2 separate regions of the Homo sapiens genome follow, and region 1 is linked to region 2. The links come from fine-mapping of genetic effects on gene expression. A gene starts in region 2. The other region holds a variant in brackets. All regions are shown on one strand. Distances are from middle to middle. Region 1 has its middle 110 kb from the start of LINC01723. Region 2 holds the start of LINC01722 (long intergenic non-protein coding RNA 1722).

Region 1 (9,838 bases), 110 kb after region 2:
CCTTGATAAAAATGGAGTACTCTGATTAAATATTACACTCCATTCCCATTTCTTCATGCAATTCCAATTTTTCTTCTGGTTACCAAGCTTCATTCCCAGTCATTGAAGACAGCAATGCAGTTCGTGTATGCTGTGCCTCCAAATAACTTTTAATTAGACATTTAAATTAGACTGGTGCTGGTTCACTGAATCCAGAGTTTTTGTATTTCTCCAATCCAATTATTAGATGTTTTAATTTACCAATTCATGCCTTGCTATTTATTTTAATATTACTTACCATGGCATTAAACCTATAATTCCTAGATTTTCTCATAAAGAAAATGAGATATAAATGTCTGAAATTAAGAACAGAAAATCCTAAGCAGTCAAATTTATAATAAAAAGTAAATAAAGCAAGCTTAAGACATCAAATCTGTAATCGAAAATAGCCATTCTCTAGACAGGTGCTGACGAGGGAGAATGAACAAAAATACTGTAATGTTATGGAGAGGACATCTGAAACATCCTAAGGGATTTCCTTGTGCTTTTTGTGAAGGTGAAAGTGAATACGGGCTTTCCTGATGAGATGGGCTACTTCACAAACCCATTTTGGTCTCTACTGGCCAGAACTGGGTTGCAGTTACAGGCCATCGGAATCTTTTCAGGATAGGGGAGACTGGGGCATGAGGTGTGGAGTTAAGTAGATGTGAGGAAGGTTGACATGGCCACTCTAAACATTTATTGAATACTTGTAATACACTGGGAATTTTCTGAGTGCTTTTGCTCATTTAACACATACTGTTATAAAGTATGAACTATTACTATCTCCATTTATAGAAGAACAAGCTGAAGCACAGAGAAGTTAAGTATCTGATCCAAGGTCACATAGAGAGTAAGCACTGGGAGTGAGATTGGAACTCAAGCTGGCTCCTGAATTTGCACTTTCTATCCTCACTCTGCCATACCTCTCCAAAAAAGCAGATAGTGAAAAACAAGAAAAAGCTGGGCTCCTCTGTCAAACCAGTCACAAATGGTAGGAGTTCTTGCCTAATGTAGTCATTATGAGGATTAAATTGGATAATTCATGTTAAAATGCTTAGCCTAGTATCTGGCATAGAATGTTGTTCATAGTGGACATTAATTGAGTGCTTGCTGCATGTCTTTAAGAAGAAGAAAACCATTTAGTGATGATGATGATGATGATGATGATAATGGGACAGAAGTACAAAGAGGATGAAGCCTAAAGCAAACCCTTAGACGTGGCTTCAGGCACTCCCATCATTATGTAGTGCTCTCAATCTTGATGGTGGTGGATGGAGTCACGAGCTGAGGGGACAAAGAGGGGTTGAGGGGGTTAAATGATTCATTTTTCCTTCATGCGCCAGTGCATAAAAACTGGATTTTAACACTAAACAACCCGTGATCCCAACCACGGGCTGGGCCCCGGGCCATCCATGTGCATCCTTTCATCAGTCTGGGGAAGCCTTCTGAAGCAGTGCCTGGCAAAAGTCCAGTGGGGACCCACTGTTTCCACTCACCAGCAATTCAGAGAAAACATTCACAAGCCAAGCATCTCCTGGGCTTCTTATGAAGATGCATGCTCTGCCCTCAAAACATTCATTATCTAAGAGTAAAAATAAAGTATGTTTATATTTAGTGAAGAATGTGAGACTGGGAACTGAGGGACAGACATAGGGACAGTTAGTGTGTCTCTTCCAGGAACGGCAATCAAGGTCTTTTTCAAGACTTTTTTATCTGAGGATTTGAGTCAGACAAAAAATCGAGGCTTTAGTGAACTTTCAGTGAGACGTCTTATGTAGCCTTGGTGGCAGAGAAATTTTCAGGTACTCCATGCCCACTGCTGAAGCTGAAATGGGTCATATTCCATCTGCTTTTGTCCCCTATATAAGTTTATTTTGTGGGAAGGGAGGTTACCTATGATCTGAGCTTAGCCAATCAGATGATCTTTCCTAGAACTTCACACCTTGATCCAGTCACCCAAGAACACAGTGACTATAGGTCGTACATAATAAAGATGGTACCCTACCTGACTAGGGTTTTCTTATTGCAATAGACAAGGAGACTGTTGCTTTGCTGCCTGAGTCCTGTTCTCTGTCACTCTCTTGGTTCCCACTTCTTCCCAAACCCAACCACTCACTAATTCTTTGAGCCCTCAATAATTTTCCAATATATTCCCTGTTATCTAAATTAGAGTCAGTGTCTGATACTGAAAACCAATAACCCTAACTTACTAATAATACTACTGCTAATACTGCCTCAAAACGAAATTTAGTCATAGCAACAGCCACAGTCCCATTAGGGTTTTATGGGGTGCTGTTATTAATATACCATATTGGGAACTGCATGCCTATGCCTCTTAGGGTTTTTTATATCCCTAATATTGTACATGAATTTGTGATAGTAACCACCCTAGCTTTCAGTTTTGCTAAAGTGCATCAGTAAGGCTTCTGAAGCCATGGGGATCTTTGAATTTCCTATAGAGTGAGATAAGGCTCTTTCTCATTACTCTAAGAATAGCCCAGCTCCTAAAGCCATTCAGAAATCCACAGAGGGAGATCTGGCTCACAGGCCTTGCAATAAACTCTTATTAACACTATCAAAAGTAATCTGCTTTTGTCTTGACCTCACTTTAGATTCTCGGCAGGTATAATGGACAGATTTGTAGGGTTTCCTTTTCCTTTTTAAAAGACTAGATAAATGTACCTTTCTTTCATCAGATTATAAAAGTCTAATGTAAATGGAAAGTTCATTGCTCACCTTGATAATAGACGTAATCTTCCTAGTGGATGCCCTCCTGTCAGAAGACATGTGAGATAGGCCTAGAGATTGTTTTCGGTTAAAACAGCCTGAAAATAAGCTTAATTTCCCAGTTTGTGCACTTTAACTTCTCTCCAACGGATGTAATGGGAAAATGCTTTTTATCAACTTTCAGTGAGGAAAAGATGTATGCTTTCTATTGTTTACAGTTACACTTGGCTGTGTTGGTCCTGTGCAGTCTGGTTATAATTGGTCCTGATGTTCAACTCATCAATTAGACCAGGCTCCTTATTATTTATTTCTTTTGGTGGTGGATAGGTGGGAGCATTGGGAGGAAGAGTGAGAAACTGTTAACATCAATGTTGGTTTTACACTGAGTATTAAAATAAGCTCAGACTCAAAGTATAGATAAAAGCACATCAAAGCAGCACTCACTGAGTATGTTTAGCATTTTATACCTCACAACATGTGTTTGTTTCTGTCACTTTGGGTTCTATAGCAAATAGGAAGCCTGCATACACCTTTGACCCAAGGGAAAACCAAGGCTTACACACACACACACACGGACATTTGACTCAAGTCACACAGCTAAACAAACACTGTTATGAATGAGATTTTGCATATCAGGCTGTTGGCTCATTTTCCTTGGTTAAACAACATGGCAGGTAGGAAAGCCTAGAAGAGAGATGGGATTTGAAAGCAGCAGACCCGAGCTGTGCTTCCAGCTGTGTTCCTTCTTGGTTAGCTGCGTTGTGGCAAGAATAAGCCTTAGTTTTTCATCTGTGAAACAGGAATAATAACAATGCCTGTTTTTCATGAAAAACACTTTGTAAAATGCAAAGTACTTTAAAAATACAATTATTATATATTTATGATAATAATTGATTATGTATTGAGCATTTACTATGTGCCAGGTATTGACACACATTATTTTATTTTTATATTGTAAAATAAAGCATATATCAAAAATTTCCTAAAACATCATTATATTGTGTAAGAATTTGTTGTGAAGGTTACATCTGTGAACTACCACCACATCAAGAATCAGAATGCTATCAGCAAACCAGAAACTGTGAGTACACATCTCTCTTCCTCCTTCCCCTAGAGGTAACCTCTATTCTAGGGTTAAAGCAATCATTTATATGCTTTTCTTTATATTTTTAATAATCCACAAATAATATAGTTTAGTTTTGCCTTTTTTTTTTTTTGACAGAGTCTTGCTCTGTTGCCCATGCTGGAGTACACTGGTGCAATCTCAGCTCACTGCTACCTCCGCCTCCCAGATTCAAGAGATTCTCCTGCCTCAGCCTCTTGAGTAGCTGGGATTACAGGCACCTGCCACTATGCCCAGCTACAAGAGATTCTCCTGCCTCAGCCCCCTGAGTAGCTGGGATTACAGGCACCTGCCACTATGCCCAGCTACAAGAGATTCTCCTGCCTCAGCCCCCTGAGTAGCTGGGATTACAGGCACCTGCCACTACGCCCAGCTAATTTTTGTATTTTTAGTAAAGATGGGGTTTCACCTTGTTGGCCAGGCTGGTCTCCAACTGAACTCCTGACCTAAGGTGATCTGCCTGGCTTGGCCTCCCAAAGTGCTGGAATTCCAGGCATGAGACACTATGCCCAGAAGTTTTGCCTTTTTTTGAACTTTATATTGATTGAATCAAATGG[C/T]ATGTATTGTTTTGCATTTGGTTTCCTTTATTGACATGGGGTTTTGAAGGTTCATTCAACTCATTCTGTATAGCTGTAGTCATTCATTTTCATTACTTACAGTATTCTACTGGATGAATATATAATAATTTATCTAAACCTCATACCATTGATTGATATTTAGATTGTTTCTTGCTTTTTGCTCTTGTGAATGATGCACTTATAAATTAGTACATGTATCTTGATGCACATATGTATGCAATTCTGTAGGCTATGCGTTAGCAGTACAATTACTGAGTCACACACAGATTATATATATCTTTAATTCTATTAGACTGTGTCTTACTGCCCGTAAAAAGGTAGATGTCCCAATTTACACTCCCACTAGCAAGTATAAGAATTTACATTGTTCCATACCCTCTCCAACATTCAATATTTTTGCATGTTTAAGTAATGATGAGTCTGGTGTCCATATAGTAGCATCTCACGGAGGTATTAATATGCATTTCCCTGATTACTACCGAGGGTGCATCTGTTTATAAGTTTATTTATCTTCTTTTTAAAGTGTTTGTTCACAGGTCCTGCTTATTCTCTATTGGGTTGTCTATCTTTTCTCACTGATTTGTAAGGTTTTAGAAAACAATAATCTAGCCACAAGTCCTTTGTTGGTTATCCATGTATCAAATATCCTTTTCCCTCTATGCTTTGCCTTTTCTTTCTCTGATGGTGTCTTTTGATGAACGTGCTTCTTCTTTTAAACATTGTCTAATTTATTAATCACTTCCCCTATGCTTATGGCATTTTGTGTCTTGTTATATGAAATCTTTCATTTCACTGAAGTTGTAAAGACTTTTTAAATGCTATTTTGTAAAATCTTCCAGTTAAGGTGGGGATACAACAGTTCACCATCGGGCAGCTGAAGTTAAGCCACTATTGAGGAAGGGGAGAGAGAAAATGTGGACTGTGGATTTCAGGTTAGTGACACCCATTTTACTTTTGAGTGCTTAGAAGGATCTGTTCAAGGAAGCAAAAGTATATAGAAAGTAGGATAGGTGCAGTAGGCTGGTCCAGGGTTCTATGGTTAGGTCATGCAAGATAAGTGTTTTATTTTTTTTTCTTTGCCTCCATTTCAGGCGCGCACACACACACACACACACACACACACACCCCAAAACAAAACCAAACCATACTGAGCTGCTTTATTTTGAGGAGAGTGGCAATTCTGATCCAGTTACTGTTTGCAGTAAAGAAAAAAATTTTGAAGAAGAGAAGGATAACTAGAGCTTTGATACAATATTTCTCCTAGCGTGGAAAACACAATTTGGGTAAAATTTAAGACATGAAAGAAGATGGAAGAAATTTTGAAATTGAGGTTTAGAATGTTTTGCAGATTTTTCATTCAAGAGCAAGGGTTACCAAGCTTATGGGAATTCTTTAAGTTTCATAGTATCTCTTTTACCCTGTTCCTTGCCCTTCCAAGTAACGTACTTATTAGTATGTTATAGAATATTAGAGATGGACGATCTCAAATTCAGCCTTTTCATTTTTCAGGTGGGGATACTAAGACTAAAGAAGAATGAAATCTTTGCCTGTGGTCACAGAGCTATTCAGTAAAATAAAATAACAAAAACTAGGTTTCTGAATATCCATCCATGGTTTCTAAAAGTGCTATAGAGTGCACATTTGAATAAAAGTAAATTGCTTGGAGAAATTTCTGACAATTTGAGATGCCATTAGGGATAACTGGAGACATTTATAGTTATTATAAAATCAGGACAAGTGATAGAAAAGTCCATTAAAGTGTGACCAACTCTCCAATTCTAGTCTTACATAAAAACTTAAATCTTTTAATTAATAAAAAACTTTAAAAATACAGTATTAAAAAGTTTAAAAATATATGAAACACTTTAATAGGCACTTTACAAAAGGGATACACAAATGGCCAATAAATATGTGTAAAATGTGCTCAACTTCATTCATCATTTGGAAAATGCCAAATAAAACCATAACGAGGTACAATTACACATCCACTAGAATGCCAAAAAACAAATAAGAAGATAAGGCAAAATCAAAACACCATAGACAATACCAGGTGTTGATGAGGACACAGAGCATCTGAAACTCTCATCCTATGATGGTGGGAGCATAAAATGGTCTAACCATTTTGGAAACTGGTAGTTTACTAAAGTTTAGTATATGGATACCCTATAATCCAGCAATTCTACTTCTAGGTATGTACCCAAGAGAACACACATATGCAATATAAGACGTGCACAAGAATCTTCGTAGCAGAGCTTTTCTTAAAAGCCTCACTCTGGAGATATTCCAAATGTTTTTTAACGATGAAATGGATAGTGGCATATTTATACAATAGAACTACACGCAGCAATGAGAAAATATGAACAACTATGACATGCAGCAGTATGACTATATCTTACAAACATAATATTCAGTGAAAGAAGCCAGACAGAACAGAGTATATCATGGAGAATTTTATTCATACAAAATTCAAAAACAAATTTACAGTTTACCCTTAAACAACACAGGTTTGAACTGCATGGGTCAACTTATACAATAGATTTTTTTTTCAAACAAATGCAGATAAAAATACGGTATTCCTGGGATGCCAACCCCATGTGTACAGAAGGTCAACTTTTTGTATAGGTGTGTTCTGCAAAGCTGACTGCAGGACTTGGGTACATGTGGAGTTTGATATTCCCTGGAGTCCTGGAGCCAATTCCCTGCATATACTGATGATGGAAAGTATTTTGTTAAGAAGTCAGAATAGTGCTTATCCTTGGGGAAATGACAGTGGTGGGTGAATAGAGCTCTAGTCATGTTTTCTTACTTGGTTTGGATAGTGGTTACACACGTGTGCTTAGACTGAAAATTCATCAAGCTATGATATATATCATATATGATATATATCACATTTGTGATATATACATATTTTTTTCTGCTTGTATGTTATGCTTCAATAAGATGTTCAAAAAATCTTAACTTTCTGCAAAGTTCCAGAGCCAGAGGTCTGGAAAAAAACCAGCATTCTACCATCCATACGGCAACCTGAATACATTTTCCATTTGACACACTCTTTCCACTTAGCCTGGCATCTGCTGCACATCTGTATCCCCCCTGGCAGCAGTAAGTTAAGCAACCCAGATGCTGAAGAAAAATCATAGCAGTAGGAGGCTGAACTTAAGACTCATAGATGAGGGAGGGCAGCTAAGTTTTCAAGTGACATCAGGAATGAATAGGAAAGTCGATTGGGAAGCAAAGAAGGAGAAAATGATCATTTTTGGCAGGAGTGAAGGCAGATTTTGCCATGGAGTCTGGTAGATTGTGAACTGGAAGATACAGCACAAAAATGAACAACAGTTAAGAACAATGTAAAGAACATGCCTGGGAAACTGGGGAGTTCTTTGCCCTGATAAAACACATGGCTGTCACTAGCTGTCTCTGCCAAGGAAGGACTGTATTCCTGTCTCATACATTACTTTTAAAAATATGAGAGAGAGAGAGAGAGAACCCTTAATTTTGAAATGCCCTTTCTTTCTGTACCAGAAGGAAAGTGGGGACTTGCTTTTATAACAGGAAAAGAAAAGCAACTTTGAGTATTACAGCATGCATGGAACATCCATAGGTATCATAACATTTAATCCTCATAGCAACCTGTGAGCTGGTGAGGGTTATTCTCTTTTATACATGGGACTTTAGACTCAGAGTTTGAGAAACTAGCACATTGTCCCATTAGTTTAAGACAGAGCCCAGCTTTGAACAGGCCCCTGTGTGACTAAAACTCCTTACTCTTTTTCACAAAAACAAGCACTGTCTTATGGAAATAGCTCTGCTTCTTCCCTTCTGCACTGATTTCCAAGGAGGAGGAAAATTCTGTCAGGAAACAACTGGTCTGTGATATCTGTCTGGGGAATCTACAAGAGCAGGGATGGGACTGTTTTGTGACTTAAAAAGAAGGGGCACACTGAATCCCAAACATCATGGCAGGGGGGCTCTAATGTATACCCCAGTGCACTGAGGGCATTCAGGGCTTCATTGCAGCCTGGTAGCTGTGGCTCCTTAGGGCAAACTACCATCCCTTTAAGTGGGATCTCAGCCTATAGGTTGAGTAGGTGGGATGTGTTATATGATGTTATTTGGGTTGCACCACAAATCTCCAAAGGAACCCCCAATTCTCCTACACCTACTCCAGTGACAGAAATTCCCACCCCAGCTGTGTCTCTGCATGAAGGCATTATCTGAGGGTAAGTTAAAACCTGGAGAGAAATCACAGTCATTTATCACACAGGCCTTCATTGCTTCATTGGGAGAACCCATTGCCCTTTTGGTGGGCAGGCACAGACTCTGGAGGCTGAGACCCCAAAGAAGTGTATTTTGATGCTGGGGGAAGGTGAAAGATTCAAGGGCTGCCGATGTGGAGGTTAATCTCATTGCATGAGGTAGTCAGGGATAGGTGTGGAAAATGGAGAGATACTCAATGGACTTGGGGGTGGTAGTGTGGGGGATAGTGAGAAGCCACATACACACATACACATACACACACATGCACACTATGCATGCATGCACACTCACACTCATACATACACATGCACACCACCCACACCACACCCCCACCCCAGATACTCAGTGGGTTATATTGGAGTCAGATAATCTGTGTTTGAACCTCACTTCTCTCACTAGTCAGTCTATGATCCTGGCCCAGTTACTTAACCTTTCTGAGCCTCATTGAGCTCATCTGTAAAGCATCTGTAGAGACTGAATGAAAGAAAAATCTACCCATCCCCTACCATGCTGTGAAAACAATGTCTGGTCCAAGGCACTTGTGGATATGGCTGAGTGACACTACAGAGGTGGAACTGGAGTCTAGGACAGGCCCAGGAGGGAGCAATGGGCCAGAGGGCAACAGAGGGGAGCATGATGGAAGTCATGGGGATGCAGATTTTATGATCATGCCAGAGCTACAGAATAAGGAAGACTTTCTGGTGATGGAAGAGGCTGCCTTGTGAGAGAGTGTGCCCCCTACTGGTGGAAGAATCACACAGGCTGCAGGGACACCTGTCGGGCAAGATGAAGTTTGGATTTCTGCACTCAAGGAAATTATTTCGGGTTCAAATCGCCCAGTGGGGAAGATTGTAGGGTTACTTTCTTTCTAAGCATTAACCAGGGAATTGGAAAGTGAGCTGTCCAGAGATGAGTGTAGACACCCAGGTTGGCCATCCTTGGAGAGGACCCAGAGATAAGCAACAGTATGTTGTTTTCACTTTTGATTATTTCATTGTTTGATGTCTGACTCCTGGTTTGAGTGTGCAGTAGACACTGGTTTGAGTGCCTACCTGAAATTCATTTTGTCTCTTTTCCCTTCTCACCTGGACCTATGCGTTTATTTGAGGAACTGCCTCTTTTTGGGTAGTTG
Region 2 (9,758 bases):
TATAGATCATACCCTTTGATCCAATCACATTTCTACACATATGTCAGTCATGCCTATCCAATGGAGTCCTCATAAAATGCCTAAGAGGACAGGGTGTGTAGAGCTTCTGGAGAGCTGAACATGTGGAGGCTGACAGGCAGGTGAAGGAGAACTTGTCCATGTGCCCGGAGGGTGACACACCCCAACTCCATGGGGACAGGAGCTCCTGTGCTCTTCCAGGCCTCACAGTATATATCTCTTCATCTGATTTTTCATTTGGATCCTTTAAAACATCCTTTGTTATACATTGATTAACATGAGTATTTCCTTGTGTTCTGTGAACTGCTCTAGCAAATTAGTCAAACTCAAACAGGGGTTTGTGGGAAACACAGCTTGAAGCCAGTCAGTGAGAAGTTCTGGAGGTGTGGAGTTTCAACTGGTTAGAAGAAGGGGGTGTTCTTGTGGGACTGAGCCCTCAACCTGTGGTTTCTGAGGCTATCCCCAGGTAGATAGTGTCAGAACTAAATTAAATTGGAGACACCCAGGTGGTTTCCACTGCAGAATCAATTGCTAGCTTGGGGTATGGAGAGAAACCTGCACATATTTGGTGGCAGAAGTCTTCTGTGTTGATTGTTGTTGTTGAGAGAAGAGAGGAAAAACACAGCTTGAGTTGCTCTTTTCCACACTCATTCCCCAATGCACACATTCAGCAAACACCAAGTACAGTTTCTGAAATTATTTTTCTTCCATATATCTGTCCTGATATATGTATTTAAATTTAGTTTTACATTTTCTAAATTTATCAGTAAACACTTTTGACTTCTAATGTGTATAATTTTCGCATTTCCTCTTTTCAGTAATTTTAAAAAATTTTTCTTTTACAAAAATATTTACTTGAAAAGGACTGGAAATTTTAAAAATGGTCCTTAATACAGTTAGCTTTAGCAGCATCAGCCTAAATAACTTGAATAAACAACAGATCATGATCAGTGTTACAGTAAATGTAAAGACTAAAGCATCAAAGCCTAAAGAGAGAGGGAAGACAACACTACTTGCATGACTCTTGAAAAATGCACCAACTCGTTGTTGCTTTTCTCAGTTGACCCTCTAGACAAAGCCATGAGGTTGACAGAGATCACCAATCTTGAAGTTGTCTGACTCAAAGCCTTAAACATTTAGCACATGATAAGGAAGGGTAACACTTACTGAGGGCTCCTTGTGCTGCCAGCGTACAAAGGTGGGGTCAGCTCTCCTTCTTGAAACTTCTTCCAAGTGGCCTATGCTTGCTTCCCGTAGGTGGTTTCTAGATATTCTCTTAATGCAAACACAACTTACTGAAGAGCAGACAGTTTTATTTATTATTTTTAAAATTTTTTATTTCCGTTGGTTATTGGGGGACAGGTGATGTTTGGTTACATGGGTAAGTTTTTTATTGGTGATTTCTGAGATTTTGGTGCACCTATCACGTGAGAGCAGTGTACAATGCACCCAATTAGTAGTTTTTTCTCCCTCACCCCCTTCCCACCTTTTTCCCTTGAGTTCCTAAAGTCCATTGTGTCATTCTTATGCCTTTGTATCCTCATAGCTTAGCTCCCACTTATGAGTGAGAAAATGCGATGTTTGGTTTTCCATTCCTGACCTACTTCACTGAGAATAATAGTCTCCAATCTCTTTCAGTTTGCTTCAAATACCATTAATTCATTTCTTTTTATGGCTGAGTAGTATTCCATTGTGTGTGTGTATGTGCCACAGAAACTGTAGCATATATATATGTATATACACACACATATATATACACACATATCTAGGCACCACAGTTTCTTTATTCACTCATTGATTGATGGGCATTTGGGTTGGTCCCACATTTTTACAATTGTGAATTGTGCTATTATATACATGCATGAGCAAGTATCTTTTTTGTATAATGGCTTCTTTTCTTCTGGGTAGATACTCAGTAGTGGGATAGCTATATCAAATAGTAGTTCTACTTTTAGTTCCTTAAGGAATCTCCATACTGTTTTTATCATAGTGGTTGTACTAGTTTACATTCCCACAAGCAGTGTAGAAGTGTTCCCTTTTCATTGCATCCATGCCAACATCTTTTTTTTTTTTTTAAATTTTTTGATGATGGTCATTCTTGGAGGAGTGAAGTAGTATCACTTTGTGGTTTTGATTTGCATTTCCCTGATCATTAGTGATGTTGAGCATTTTTTATATGTTTGTTGGCCATTTGTATGTCTTCTTTTGAGAATTGTCTATGCATGTCCTTATCCCACTTTTTGATGGGATTGTTTGTTTACTTCTTGCTAATTTGTTTGAGTTCATTTTAGATTCTGGATATTAGTCCTTTGCCAGATGTATTGATTGTGAAGATTTTCTCCCACTCTGTCAGTTTTCTGTTTACTCTGCTGATTGTTCCTTTTGCTATGCAAAAGCTCTTTAGTTTAATCAAGTCCCAGTTGCTTATCTTTGTTTATATTACATTTGCTGTTTGGTTCTTGGTCATGAAATCCTTGCCTAAGCTAATATCTAGAAGAGTTTTTCTGATGTCATCTGCTGGAATTTTTTCACATCTTATATTTAAGTCCTTGATCCATCTTGAGTTGATTTTTGTATAAGGTAAGAGATGATGATCCAGTTTCATTCTCCTACATGTGGCTTGCCAATTATCCCAGCACCATTTGTTGAATAGGGTGTCCTTTCCCCCACTTTATGTCTTTTTTTGCTTTGTCAAAGATCAGTTGGCTGTAAGTATTTGGGTTTATTTCTGGGTTCTCTGTTCTGTTCCATTGGTCTATGTGCCTAGCTTTATATCAGTACCATGATATTTTGGTGACTATGGCCTTATAGTATAGTTTGAAATCAGGTAATGTGATGCCTCCAGATTTGTTCTTTTTGCTTTGGTTATGCGGGCTCTTTTTTGCTTCCATATAAATTTTAGAATTGATTTTGTAGTTCTGTGAAGAATGATGGTGGTATTTTGATGAGAATTGCATATACGTACAACAAATAGCACTATGAATGGAACAGTATCTCACATTTCAATACTAATATTTAATTTAGATGGCCTAAATGCTCCACTTAAAAGATACAGAATTGCAGAATGGATAAGAATTCACCAGCTATTTGCTGCCTTCAAGAGACTCACCTCATCAGAGAAATGCAAATCAAAACCACAATGAGATACCACCTCACACCAGTTAGAATGGCAATCATTAAAAAGTCAGGAAACAACAGGTGCTGGAGAGGATGTGGAGAAATAGGAACACTTTTACACTGTTGGTGGGACTGTAAACTAGTTCAACCATTGTGGAAGTCAGTGTGGCAATTCCTCAGGGATCTAGAACTAGAAATACCATTTGACCCAGCAATCCCATTACTGGGTATATACCCAAAGGACTATAAATCATGCTGCTATAAAGACACATGCACACGTATGTTTATTGAGGCACTATTCACAATAGCAAAGACTTGGAACCAACCCAAATGTCCAACAATGATAGACTGGATTAAGAAAATGTGGCACATATACACCATGGAATACTATGCAGCCATAAAAAACGAGGAGTTCATGTCCTTTGTAGGGACATGGATGAAATTGGAAATCATCATTCTCAGTAAAGTATTGCAAGGACAAAAAAGCAAACACCACATGTTCTCACTCATAGGTGGGAATTGAACAATGAGAACACATGGACACAGGAAGGGGAACATCACACTCTGGGGACTGTTGTGGGGTGGGGGGAGGGGGGAGGGATAGCATTAGGAGACATACCTAATGCTAAATGAAGAGTTAATGGGTGCAGCACACCAGCATGGCACATGTATACATATGTAACAAACCTGCACATTGTGCACATGTACCCTAAAACTTAAAGTATAATAATAATAATAATAATAATAATTTAAAAATTAAAAAAAAAAGAGACTCACCTAACACTTAAGGACTCACATTAACTTAAGGTAAAGGGGTGGAAAAAGAGATTCCATGCAGATGGAGACCAAAAGCGAGCAAGAGTAGCTATTCTTATATCAGACAAAAGAAACTTTAAAGCAACAGCAGTTAAGAAAGACAAAGGGAGACATTATATAATGATAAAAGGCCTGTTCAACAGGAAAATATCACAATCCTAAATATATATGCACCTAATACTGGAGCTCCCAAGTTTATAAAACAATTACTACTAGATCTAACAAATGAAATAGACAGCAAAACAATAATAGTGGGGGACTTCAATACTCCACTGACGACACTAGACAGGTCATCAAGACAGAAAGTTAGCAAAGAAACAATGGATTTAAACTATACCCTAGAGCAAATGGACTTAACAGATATTTACAGAACATTCTACCCAACAACTACAGAATATACATTATAATCATCAGCATATGGAACTTTCTCTAAGATAGACCTTATGATAGGCCACAAAATGAGCCTCAGTAAATTTAAGGGAATTGAAATTATATAAAGTACTCTATCAGACCACAGTGGAATAAAACTGGAAATCCACTCCGAAAGGAACCTTCAAAACCATGAAAATACATGGAAATTAAATAACCTGCTCCTAAATGATCACTGGGTCAAGTATGAAATCAAGATGGGAATTAAAGAATTCTTCAAACTGAATGCAAATAGTGACACAACCTATCAAAACCTCTGGAATACAGCAAAGGCAGTGCTAAGAGGAAAGTTCACAGCTCTAAATGCCAACATCAAAAAATCTGAAAGAGCATAAACGGACAACCTAAGTTCACACCTCAAAGAACTGGAGAAACAAGAACAAACCAAACCCAAACCCAGCAAGAAAAAGGAAATAAACAAGATCAGTGCAGAACTAAATGAAATTGAAATAACAACGAAAAACAATACAAAAGATAAATGAAACAAAAAGCTTGTTCTTGAAACCAGCTTAATAAATAAAATAGATAAATAAAACTGATTGAACATTAGCAAAATTAACCAAGAAGACAGAAAATCCCAATAAACTCAATCAGAAATGAAATGGGAGATATTACAACTGACACCACAGAAATACAAAAGATCATTCAAGGCTACGATGAACACTTTCATGCGCATGAACTAGAAAACCTAGAGGAGGTGGATAACTCCTTGGAATGATATAACCCTCCTATCTTACAACAGGAAGAATTAGATACCCTGAACAGACCAATAACAAGCAGCGAGATTGAAATGGTAACTAAAAAAATGTTTTATATTTTAAATCCCTGTATGTACTTCTCTAATTTTTACTCCAAATATACAAGATATGTTAGTGTGTAGGAAGCAAGTGTAAGTTTGATGTTCACATAAGAAGCAGTATCCAAGGAGAGTACCATTGAATTGTGACCTTATGTGTCATTTATTGCATTAGGAGTGAGCCAATGTTTTACCCTTTGAGATGAGCAGATTGCTTGAGGGGAGTTAAAGTCCTTACATATGTCATCAGCAAACCATTTTCACGGACTGCTGGGCAGAATTTAGGCAGATCAGGGAAGTGATGACAATGGCTAGAAGAAGGGTAGAAAGGGAGAGACATAGGTGAGAATGACAGACATTCAGGAGGTGCATCAGTGGGAGCAAGATACGGCACCACAAAAAAAGACCCGGAGAATAATATACTGTAAAGCCATATTTACAATTTATGGACATGCAAATCTATTCAATATATTGTTTAAGAGTACAGAAAGTTGAAGTCAAGCTACAAAGAATAGCAATTGATAAATAAACATAAAATTCAGCATAATGGCTACCGAGGAGGTGGTTTTTTGATATAGGGGGTGGGGGCCCACAGAAGAAGGCTAAGGTAAATACTGCTCTGTTTCTTAAGACAAATGATGGCTATGCTGGGATTCTTTAATTAATTATCTTTGTGCTTCGAGTACACATTTTATGCATTTCCTCTAGTGAGTCAGATATTTTATTTTATTATACTAAAATAGGAAAAGTAACTGGGCATAGAAACCTTAAGTTATACTGATAATTTTTGAGAGCCTGGGCTACAGTACTGAGCCCTTTCCTATAAGGCTCTTTCCTGTTTTTATTAAAAAAATTAAAAAAATGTTTTTTAATAGGAAGTTCCTATAAAGAAAGAACTGCTGCCTTGATCCCCAAGTTCAGATCCCAAATTTCAGAGCCTCTTCCATCCATATCCACTTACCTAGGCTGCTCTTCCCTAAAGCCAAGCCACTCCACTCACCTGGGGGCTCCAGGCCTCCCTGTTCCTGCTCATCACAGCCTCACATCTTGGCTGTCAGTCCCTGAGCAGCCAGAAAGATCAGGAGTAGGGTGAACACAGCAGAGATGGCCAGGACAGTGGAGACTTGTTTACTGTCACCATTGGGAACCTCTGAAGGTGCTTTAAAAGGGTGGGGCCAAAAGCTGGGGGCAGAGTCAGAACAGCTGGGGCAGCAGTAAGTCTCTGACCCCTCCCCACCCAGTGATTTTGGGAAGTTTTTCTGCTTGGCTCCTCAGACCCAGCTTGCCCCTCTGTCCTGGAAATGAGCCTCAATTAATTTCTCCCAAGAAGGTGGGACATCTGGCTCCACTGGACAGATGGAGGTGAGATGGTTGAGAGGGAAGCAAGGGTGGAGGGAGTCAACGGCTGCCGCTGGGTGTGTCTCTCTGGATCAGAGACCACTTGAGAAGAAATTCCGGTGACGGAATCACAAGTGGGGTGGGGGAGCATTAGGTCACAATGGTCAGATTGTGACCCACATGGAGTGGAGCTGGGGATTGGCCAGCCAGGAAGAGGGGGTTGATAAAAGCCAGGTTACCAGGGAGTGAGCCCGGCAGAGAGGGGCTGGGCTTGAAGGGATGGGGTGAAGGGATGGTGATGATTGGGTTCTGGCTCCTGCTCCAAGGCCCTTTCATGGAGACTTATTTCCCATGGTCCTCTCCTAAGGAAAGCCTCTCCACTCTCACCTGCATCCTGCCCTGAGTCTCAGCCTCTGACTACAGTCTATAGTCTACAGCTTCCCTCTCCCCACGTCCCAACCCCAGTTTTCTTAGTTCCTGGCTGCAAGGATTTTAGATCCTCCACTCAATTTCCAAAAATTTCTCCTGGCACCAGCTTCTCTACCCAGCATTTTTAGCCTACCTGTCAATCCTCCCCTATATGTCCCATCGGTATGGAAGTCCAGATGACAGTCATTGATATGCTGCTTGCATTTTCTGAATCACTATGTCAATGAGAAATGCGCCCTATCAGAGCTAACAGAGCTTCACAGCAAGGTCATTTTGAAGATAACCTTCTTCAAAATGAAGAGTGAGGAGGACATAAGTGCTGTAGGATCAGTATGTGAGGCTACCACAAACATGCTGTGGTTTGCACATTCTTTGAGGCTTGCAGAGAGAAGCCTGAAAAACACGGCTGATGTCTTGGCAGAATTTACCCTGGCCCCCAGGCTGGTGTACAAAACATCTTCATGACAAGGTGTCTTGCTGGCCACTCTTAACCATTAGAAGAAACAGATGCCATGGAACTTTGAAAAATCAGAAAGTGAATGTACAAATGGAGAACCTTTGAAGACAGCAGAGCCCAATGTGGGTAAATGACATTGCTCGTAGGAAGGAAACAGTGTTATGGAGCAAAAGGGGCTCACTGCCTGATGCACTAGAAGGCAATACTAGGACAATGGGTTTTGAGAAAATAAAAGCCTTACACTGAAATTCAACAACCAAGAAGACAGGAGTCAAGCTCATCTGTCTCCTGTGTTGGCTCCAAGGCAGTTTTTAGAAAAGTTTTATGGGGTGGATACTGGGGTTAGCAGGTGATTGGTGGAAGGTAAGCAGAGTCTGAAAAGTCCTCAGGCATGTGCAGTTATCTCTTCATGCTACCTTATGAGTCATATGTGCAAATTTGGGAGAAGTTAGTATGAAACAAGCAGTGGAAATCCAGGCTGCAGTTTCAGCAAGCTTGTTCTAGTAGGCCATCTTGGTCCCAACCAATGTTAGGCAGTTCTTTTACCTCAAAAGCAGAGGGAGTTTCAGTGTTTCAGTGACTTGGTTTTTTTTCATCTGCCATTCTGCAAAATCAAGATTTTCTGTTAGTCATTATGAACTCTTTGGGACTGGTTTCAACAGCAGGCCCAGAAGCATCACAGACATATCTTACAGTGAAAGAGTTCTGGGCACCACTTTGGGAGGCGAAGGTGGGTGGATCATGAGGCCAGGCGTTCAAGACCAGCCTGGCCAACATGGTGAAACCCGCCTCTGCTAAAGATACAAAAAATTAGCTGGACTTGGTGGTGCGCACCTGTAATCTCAGCTACTCGGGAGGCTGAGGCAGAAGAATTGCTTGAACCCAGGAGGTGGAGGTTGAAGTGAGCCGAGATTGCGCCATTGCATGCTAGCCTGGGTGACAGGGCAAGGTCTCAAAAAAAAAAAAATAAGTTCTGGGCACGTAATTACTGCTATCATATTTCTGACATATCTGCTTTTTTTTAAAGAGAGGATATGAAGTGTTTACTAAGCAGACTAAGAAGAATATAAACAACATCTCAAGAGAAATCTAAGGAATTTTAAACAGACTACCCGATTACTAATATTTTTATAAAATCCTGAATGGTACTTAAAAATGACTATTGAAAAAAAAGAAACTTGAAATAATTAAAGTATCAGGACAAATAAAAAGTAAAAGAAAGAAACTAATAATTAGAAGGGAAATTGCACAAAACTCAGTGGTTTTACAAATTCCACATTAGAAATTCCATATTAGCACTCTTAATAAGAAAGCCTATGCAGTTTTCATTGTCGCTTGGGCTGCGGAAAGAATTCATGCACAGAGAATGAAAGTGGCCACCTGAGGAAGGTCCTTTGAAGATAAGCCATCAGTTCAGCTTTGATGGCCATCTCCAAAAACCTTCACCAAACACTTCCATAAAGAGGTTTTATTCAAGCTGGGGGCCCCTTTGGCCCTCACAAAAAAATTGAGAAAGTTTCCTGTGATCGCTCAACAATGTCCCAACTTGTGATGTGTTTCTTTTCTGGAAATGGAAGATTTGGGCTTATACCTGAGGAAGAGACTACAATGTAGTAACAGTGAATCATCAAAATGCTTGGTAAATTAATGACCTCAGAGCTGTTCCCTCTTTTGGCCACGGCTATCACCTTAAGCAGTCTGGATTCTTCCAGAGTAAGGAGTGATGTTTTTCACATTGGTGCCCTGACATTGGGTTTTCCTTACAAATGTTCAATGTGATCTCACCAACTGCAGGATGCCCACCCCTACGTAGTCCATTGAGACCCTCTCTCCTCACCTGTGGGAAGCTGAGAGCCTTCCATCCCACCTCAGAGTCCTGCTAGCCCATATCCTTAATAGTAGCATTCCTGGATTATCACATTGAAAAAGAGGACACTAGCCCCTGGCATCTGAGAACTGGGCTGTTACTGTTAGGTGTGGTGGATCTGGCCCAGTACTGACAGCTAGGTGGTAAAGTTCTCCTGTTCAACATAAAAAGACAAGAGCACTAGACAAGGCACCTCTGTGGCTTTAGTGGATGAAAAACAAAAACAAAAACCAAGACCAATCTGTAATAACGTCTGAATGCAAACAAAACATACAAACTGCTAAAACTGCAAAAAATGGCCAAACATATTCCTCTCCTGGTCAGAATATGAGTAACTGACATTTGTTTAACAATCACAGCTTTAGCCTCACCATCCCATTGCTTTTTTTGTTTAAGATTTATCAAGATAACCAATCATGGAATTATCCCCACTTCCTAATAGCATCCAATACAAAGCAAAACTTTGCTTTATGAATTATCTCTGAAAAACT

What was found. PIP is the estimated chance that this variant, and not a neighbour inherited with it, causes the effect.
Region 1: its variant is fine-mapped to the expression of LINC01722 in testis (GTEx, PIP above 0.99).

What each region holds. Positions count from the first base shown.
Region 1 is chr20:12,838,068-12,847,905 of GRCh38, reverse strand. No RefSeq gene overlaps it. Among named protein-coding and RNA genes, the nearest start is that of LINC01723, 110 kb to the left of the region's middle. The variant C/T (reference allele first, on the strand shown) is at 4,429.
Region 2 is chr20:12,947,180-12,956,937 of GRCh38, reverse strand. LINC01722 (long intergenic non-protein coding RNA 1722) reads left to right here and starts at 4,419. Exons shown (of 12, transcript NR_109868.1): 1 at 4,419-5,173; 2 at 6,452-6,538. It overlaps LINC01723 (long intergenic non-protein coding RNA 1723), which reads right to left and starts at 6,598. Exons shown (of 2, transcript NR_109870.1): 1 at 6,177-6,598; 2 at 5,311-5,487.